2 linked regions of the Homo sapiens genome follow. The protein of the gene in region 1 interacts with the protein of each later gene in a biochemical or structural test. Each region holds a gene or a part of one and is shown on either strand. Other genes may lie near its edges.

Region 1 (3,809 bases):
CCGGGTGGTCTTTCTTGTGCTGCATACGGAGCCGCTCAGCCTCCTCGATGAAGGGGCGCTTGTCACTTTCGTTCAGCAGCCTGGGGTGTGGTGGGAGGCGGAGAGGACAGCAGAGGGGCTGGCGTGAATGCCAGAGCACTCCAGGTTGGCCTCCCTCTGAGTGTCCATCTTGGAAGATGTGAGGCCCTGGGATGGGGCACCCAGAGGACAGGACCCGGGGTGGGGGCTGTGCCCTATGATTTGTGGACTGAGAGATGTGAGGCCCAAGGAATAACAGCCTCAGAGGGCTGCCCCCAAATCTTTCATGGGCTGGAGGGTGAGAGAGGGGTCAGCCCGCTGCTCCTGGCAGCCCCTGAGGAGGAGTTAGAAGTAGGAGTAGAGGTTTCAAGGGGCAGATGCCAGTTCAAGGAAAGGAAAAACTTTCTCATCATCAAAGCTGTCTGCAAGTGGAATTGGCTACTTCAGTGGGGGTGAGCTCCCTGGGACTGAGGGTGGGCAATAGAAGCAGCATGGCTGGGGGAGAACTCAGTCTCTGCTACTTACTAGCTGTGTGTGTGACCTTGAGCAAATTACTTCTCTGAGCCTGAGTTTCTTCACCTATAAAAGGATGATAACATTGGCTTAACTTGGGTGTGGGATTGGCCAGAATAATGGATGTGAGATGCCTTGCACCAGGGCCTGGGAAGCGGGCTGAGCACCTTGAGGAAGAGGTGCTTTTCTTTCTTTCTTTTTTTTTTCTGTGAGGGAATCTCACTCTGTCACCCATGCTAGAGCTCAGTGGTATGATCTCAGCTCACTGCAACCTCTGCCTCCCAGGTTCAAGTGATTCTTGTGCCTCAGCCTCCCAAGTAGCTGGGATTACAAGCATGCGCCACCACGCCCGGTTAATTTTTGTATTTTTAGTAGAGATGGGGTTTCACCATGTTGACCAGGCTGGTCTCCAACTCCTGACCTTAGTTGATCCGCCTGCCTTGGCCTTCCAAAGTGCTGGGATTACAGGCATGAGCCATTGTGCCCAGCCCAAGAGGTACTTTTCTATTTTTAATTTTTTATTTATTTAGAGACAGAGTCTCACTCTGTCGCCCAGGCTGGAGTGCCGTGATGCGGTCTCAGCTCACTGCAATCTCGGCTTCCTGAGTTCAAGCGATTCTCCTGCCTCAGCCTCCCGGGTAGCTGGGACTACAGGCACGCACCACCATGCCTGGCTAATTTTTGTATTTTTAGTAGAGACGAGGTTTCACCATATTGGCCAGGCTGGTCTCCAACTCCTGACCTCAGGTGATCCACCCGCCTTGGCCTCCCAAAGTGCTGAGATTATAGGCATGAGCCACCGTGCCCGGCCCCAAGAGGTGCTTTTCTAATGCTGCTTGCGGGGGTGGTTGGACAGGAGGATCTAGGGTTGGACTCTTAACTCTGGGTCCTGATTGTGTGAATTCCAGTGTGGTGGGACTGAGGGGGCAGATGTGGCTCCTCTTTACCATGGGTCTGGGTGGGGGGTACTGCCTCCTGTGGGGGATCCTATATCCTTGTCCAGAAAATAGCAGAGAGTAGAGGAAGCTAGCCTCTCCTCAGACCCTGGAACAGTCCCTGAAACCAACACATGGAGAGAAGAAGCCCTGAAGCCAGCGCCCTTGCCACCGACTCCAGCCTTAGGCCAGGGTTGGAGGGTGGAGGGCATTTAGGGTTTGGCTGCCCCAGGGTGAGGAGGGCAGGATGGGGTACCTTACAGAGGGGGTCGAGGGGAAAGTCCAGATTCTAGAATCCCAGACCTTGGTACTGAGAATCCATGAGTCTTTGTGGGAGCAGCCTTGTCTGTCAGTCCAGAGGGCTTGTCTCTTCAGCTGCCCCACCCCTCACACCCCAGTGAGTGCCCTCTTCCCCCAGTCAGCAGAAGGCCGAGCCCTCCCTCCCCAGGCTGGGCGGGGGTGGTCATGCCAGGCACCTCCTAGCCGGCAGCAGCATTCCTCTGCGGCTTAGCCTCCCTGTCTACTCCCCCCACCCCGGCCCTGAGCCCAGCCCTAGCCCCAGCTTTCTCAGAGGGTCCCTCCAGCCGAGACTCTGTCAGAGTCAGTGTACACACTTAGGACAAAGATGCCGGAGCAGGGCCTTGAGAGTCAGGGAGTGGGATGTGGGCACCCTCTCTGACGGCTGGGACCAGGGGAGGGGGTGGAGCAGGCCTTGAGGGTGTGACTGGGGAGAACCCACAGAGGAGAGAGCTGCTCCGCCAGCAGTGGACCCCAACAGAGGGGCTTCTGGGATGGCTGGGGACATGGGACACAGAGCTCACTCTTTCACCTATCCTTCCCTTGCCCCCTGCCCAGCTGGCAGCCAGCATCAGCAAGAAAGTGACAGGGGCCAGAAGAGAGAGAGGATTCCAACATCGGATTCCGCTGCTACCTCCTAAGCTAGTTCCCAGCATTAGCCTAACCCTGACAGAAATCTAAGCCTGGGGCCACTGCCATCCCCGACCCCAGCTCCCTCCTCCACCAGCTGTGCCGGACAGCTGATTCCACCTCCACCCCAACCCCAAGCCCAGCCTGCCCACCATGTAAACCCAATCTCCAGCACCAGTCCCCACTCAACATTACCAGCCCCAAACCCCCAACTTCGCCTCCAGCTCTAACTCCAAACCCAGTCCTCATCTGCACCTTCCTGTCAGCCCTCTTTCTCCCTGGTCTCCCAGGTTTGGAATGGGGGCAAGAAGAGGTAGGCTGATTCCTCACCCAAACTGGAAACCCCAACCGGGGACCTCCCACAGTGGGGCACTGATTGCTGCTACCTGTGTCCTGCTAGGCCAGGGGCATAAGAAGACTACTTGGGGAAGGGGCCTGTGGCACTGGGAACAGAGGCTGGGTGACCCCCACCACACAGGAGGGACTCTTGCCTGTGTCCGCCTTTCCAGTTTCTTGGCTCTGGTTCTTTCCAGGCAGATCAGCCAACCCACAGGCACCACCCTGTGATCAGCCTCAACTAGCCCCTCCCCAGATGGGCATCAAAGGTTAGAATGACTGTTGGGGCTGACACGGCCCCTTAGGACCTGGGCTCCAGTGTGTCTGATCCCACACTCCCTTGGGGCACTCCACACAGTCTGTGTGTATCTTTCTCTTTTTGGTTTTAAGACACCTGTTTTCCAGCTCTGCCTACCTAACCACCCCACTTCTTGACATCCCAGGAGTCACAGCTTGGGGAGGTTTCAGGAGAAGCCCCTGGAGCAATTGGCCAGCCCAGCCCAAATCCAAATGTCTCTCAGGACCCCCCTCCAGGGTCCAGGGAGCCACCCTCTGTTGGCATTGCCTTTGATCCTTGCCATGGTTCTGGCCCCATCCTCCCATTGGGATTGGGTCCTCAGCAAGTAGTGCCAGTTTTCCTGACTGCCACACCTCAGGCTGGCCCCTGTGCACACAGCTTGAGTGATGGCCAAGAATAAGTCCTCCTGAAGGGAGTCCAAGCCCAGGGTTCTGGGCTGGGGGAACCTGGGGACAGGGACAATGGAGGAGCCAATCTTAAACCCTTGGCAATGGGAGATGGAGGGAAAATGAGGTCCGTCCTTGCTTTGACTCTCGTTGGGCTCGTACTGTGGTCTTCTCATGGTCCCCAGAGTCTGCCCTATCTGTATGTCTCTCCTGGTTGTCTGTTTCTCACTTGCTCTTTGTCCCCTGGCACTAAAGATACTGGCCTGGGCCAAGCCCCACCCAGATCTGGATGGACCTTGGGTGGAGGAGCTAGCTGTGACCTCTGCTCTTGGGCAGAACTGGGCTGTCTGGGTCCACACAGCGGGCTGGTCGCTGAGCCCTGGGCCTGCCCTGGGT
Region 2 (3,809 bases), on another chromosome or scaffold:
CTTGAGCCCAGGAGTTTGAGACCGGCCAAGGCAACACAGTGAGTGAGACTCCATCTCTGCAAAAATAAAAATTAGCCAGACATGGTGGTTTGCACCTGTAGTCCCAGCTACTCAGGAAGCTGACGTGGGAGAATCGCTTGAGTCTGGGAGTTCAGGGCCCAAGTGACCTAAGATCGTGCCACTGCACTCCAGTGAGACGCCTGTCTTTTTTATTTATTTATTTATTTATTTTGAGACGGAGTCTCGCTCTTGTTGCCCAGGCTGGAGTGCAATGGCGCGACCTTGGCTCACTGCAACCTCTGCCTCCCGGGTTCAAGTGATTCTCCTGCCTTAGCCTCCCGAGTAGCTGGGATTACAGGCGCCTGTCACCATACCTGGCTAATTTTTTGTGTTTTTAGTAGAGATGGGGTTTCGCCATGTTGGCCAGGCTGATCTCAAACTCCTGACCTCAGATGATCCACCCACCTCGGCCTCCCAAAGTGCTGGGATTACAGGCGTGAGCCACCACACCAGGCTGAGACCCCCATCTCTTAAAAAAAAAAGTAATAAAAATCACAGTAGCCCCAGCACTTTGGGAGGCCGAGGCAGGCGGATCACGAGGTCAGGACATTGAGACCATCCTGGCTAACACAGTGAACCCCCGTCTCTACTAAAAAAAAAAATACAAAAAATTAGTTGGGCATGGTGGCGGGTGCCTGTAGTCCCAGCTATTCAGGAGGCTGAGGCAGGAGAATGGCGTGAACCCGGGAGGTAGAGTTTGCAGTGAGCTGAGATCGCATCACTGCACTCTAGCCTGGGTGACAGAGCGAGACTCTGTCTCAAAAAAAAAAAAAAAAAAAAAAAATCCAATAGCAATATAAGTTGTAATGATAACAATCATCGCATCATTAATAACAATGTAGTCCTTTGAGAGCTGGGGGGAGGAAAACAGCTTTCTGTGCTAGGAAGGGATCACCCCTGTCCGAAATGCCCAGCCCAGCCTGGTCAAGGCAGGGAGATGGAAAGGCAGTTTTGCTTCTCTTTCTCTTCTTGTTCCTTGTATTTATTCCACCTTGAGGCTGAGAAACTAGGTCCCAGATGTTTTTAATTTGTTTTATTTTATTTTTTATTTTTTTAGAGACAGGGTCTTACTCTATCCCCCAGGCTGGAGTGCAGTGGCACAATCACAGCTCACTGCAGCCTCGACCTCTGAGGCTCAAGTGATCCTCCCACCTCAGCCTCCTAAGTAGCTAGGACTACAGGTGTGCGCCACAGCAACTATGCCCAACTAATTATTTTTGTAATTTTTAGTAGAGACGGGGTTTCGACATGTTGGTCAGGCTGCTCTCAAACACTTGGGCTCAAGTGATCTCTCCACCTCGGCCTCCCAAGTAGCTGGGACTACAGACGCGCACCACAAAAATTATGCCCAGCTAATTTTTGTAATTTTCGTAAAGATAGGGTTTTGCCTGCCGGCCACAGTGGCTCACACCTGTAATCCCAGCACTTTGGGAGGCAGAGGCAGGTGGACCACCTGAGGTCAGGAGTTCAAGACCAGCCTGGCCAACATGGTGAAACCCCATCTCTACTAAAAATACAAAAATTAGCTGGGCATGATAGTGTGTGGCTGTAATAGTGTGTGCCTGTAATCCCAGCTACTCGGGAGGCTGAGGCAGGAGAATCTCTTGAACCTGGGAGGCGGAGGTTGCAGTGAGCCGAGATTGTGCCACTGCACTCCAGCCTGGGTGACAAGAGTGAAACTCTGTCTCAAAAAAAAAAAAAAAAAAAAGGAGATGGGGTTTCGCCATGTTGCCCAGGCTGGGATTGAACTGGGCTCAAGTGATCCACCCACCTCAGCCTCCCAAAGTTCTGGGATTACAGGCGTTAGCCATAGTCCCCAGCTGAGATCCCAAATGCTATGCAGACTCAGTTTCCCTTGCTGGAAAATGGGAAGAATGGGAGGGGCCTCCCCACACCCAGACAGGGAGCTGGGGGCCTCCCACTGCCCCACATTTCTCTTCAAGGGGCTGCTGTTATTTTCGTGGGGAAGTCAGATGAGTGCAGGTTCCAGTCCACCTCTGTCCCCCATGGCCGGGTTCCCCCTCAAGGCCTCAGTTTCCTCATCTGTAGCATGGGTGTTGTGACTGCCCTCAGACACCAATTTGTCATGATTTGGGAGTAGGTTGAAGTCCCAGCTCTGGCCCAGTCTCAGCGCCTTCCCAGCCCTCGGATTTTCCATCTCCAGGGTGGGTCTGCAGGGAACGGGGTGGCCCCTCTCCCCAGTTCTGAACCTTTGTGGCTGAGCGTCTGCTTCTCTGGTCTGTTTCTGTATCAGCACAGTGGGTTCATGGAAAGGGGAAAGGAGGGAGAGGACTCCACCCGGGATTTCTCCTCCCTCTGATTAATCCTGGTGCACTTGAATCTCTTATCTTTTGATGCAGAAATCCCCCCACCCTTCCAGCAGCCCTCAACCTCCAGGCGGGCCTAGTGTCTGCCTGTGGATCTCAGCCAGGCCTGTCTGTACATATGCTCTGTAGGAACAAGCTTTCGTAGTCATTTTTTGTTTTTTTGTTTTTTGTTTTCCCAAGATGGAGTCTCGCCCTGTCACCCAGGCTGGAGTACAGTGGAGTGACCTTGGCTCACTGCAACCTCCACCTCCCAGGTTCAAGCAATTCTCCTGCCTCAGCCTCCCAAGTAGCTGGGATTACAGTCATGCGCCACCACGCCTGGCTAATTTTTGTATTTTTAGTAGAGACAGAGTTTCACCATGTTAGCCAGGCTGGTCTTGAACTCCTGACTTCTTGATCTGCCCGCCTCGGTCTCCCAAAGTGCTAGGATTACAGGCATGAACCACCGCGCCCAGCCGGGTTTTTTTTTTTTGAGACGGAGTCTCACTCTGTCGCCCAGGCTGGAATGTAGTGGCGAGCTCTCGGCTCACTGCAACCTCTGCCTCCTGGGTTCTCCTGCCTCAGCCTCCTGAGTAGCCGGGACTACAGGCGTGTGCCACCATGCCCAGCTAATTTTTGTATTTTTAGTAAAGATGGGGTTTCACTATGTTGGCCAGGCTGGTGTCAAGCTCTTGACCTCAAGCGATCCACCTGCCTCAGCCTCCCAAAGTGCTGGGATTACAGGCGTGAGCCACTGCGCCCAGCCTCATTTTTCATTTTTTTTTATTTCTTTCTTTTTTTTTTTTTTTTTTTTTTTGAGTCAGGAGTCAGGGGTCTCACTACGTTGTCACCCGGGCTGGAGATCAATGGCGCAACCTTGGCTCACTGCAGCCTTGACCTCCTGGGCTCAATTGATCTTCCCACCTCAGCCTCCCAAGTAGTTGGGACTGCAGGTATGCATCACCTAGCTAAGTTTTGATTTTGTAGAAACGGGGCCTCGCTATGTCATCCAGGCTGGTCTTGAACTCCTGGGCTCAAGCAGTCCACCCACTGTGGCCTCCCAAAGTGCTGGGATTACAGGTGTGAGCCACCATGCTTGGCCGCCGACCCTAGTTTTTTTTTGTTTTGTTTTGTTTTTTGAGATGGAGTCTTGCTCTGTCGCCCAGGCTGGAGTGCAGTGGCGCAATCTCGGCTCACTGCAAGCTCCGCCTCCCGGGTTCATGCCAATCTCCTGCCTCAGCCTCCTGAGTAGCTGGGACTACAGGCGCCCGACACCACGCCCGGCTAATTTTTTTGTTTTTTTTTCAGTAGAGACGGGGTTTCACTGTGTTAGCCAGGATGGTCTCAATCTCCTGACCTCGTGATCTGCCCGCCTTGGCCTCCCAAAGTGCTGGGATTACAAGCGTGAGCCACCGTGCCCAGCCTTGTTCTTTTTTTTTTTTT

The links.
Region 2: the proteins of SOX10 (region 1) and NFIC form a complex in vitro, tested with the Homo sapiens proteins (one study listed by BioGRID).

What each region holds. Positions count from the first base shown.
Region 1 is NC_000022.11:37,978,056-37,981,864, forward strand, and holds part of SOX10 (transcription factor SOX-10), read right to left. Parts: intron 81-3,809; coding exon 1-80. UniProt on the Homo sapiens protein: Transcription factor that plays a central role in developing and mature glia.
Region 2 is NC_000019.10:3,376,514-3,380,322, forward strand, and holds part of NFIC (nuclear factor 1 C-type), read left to right. Parts: intron 1-3,809.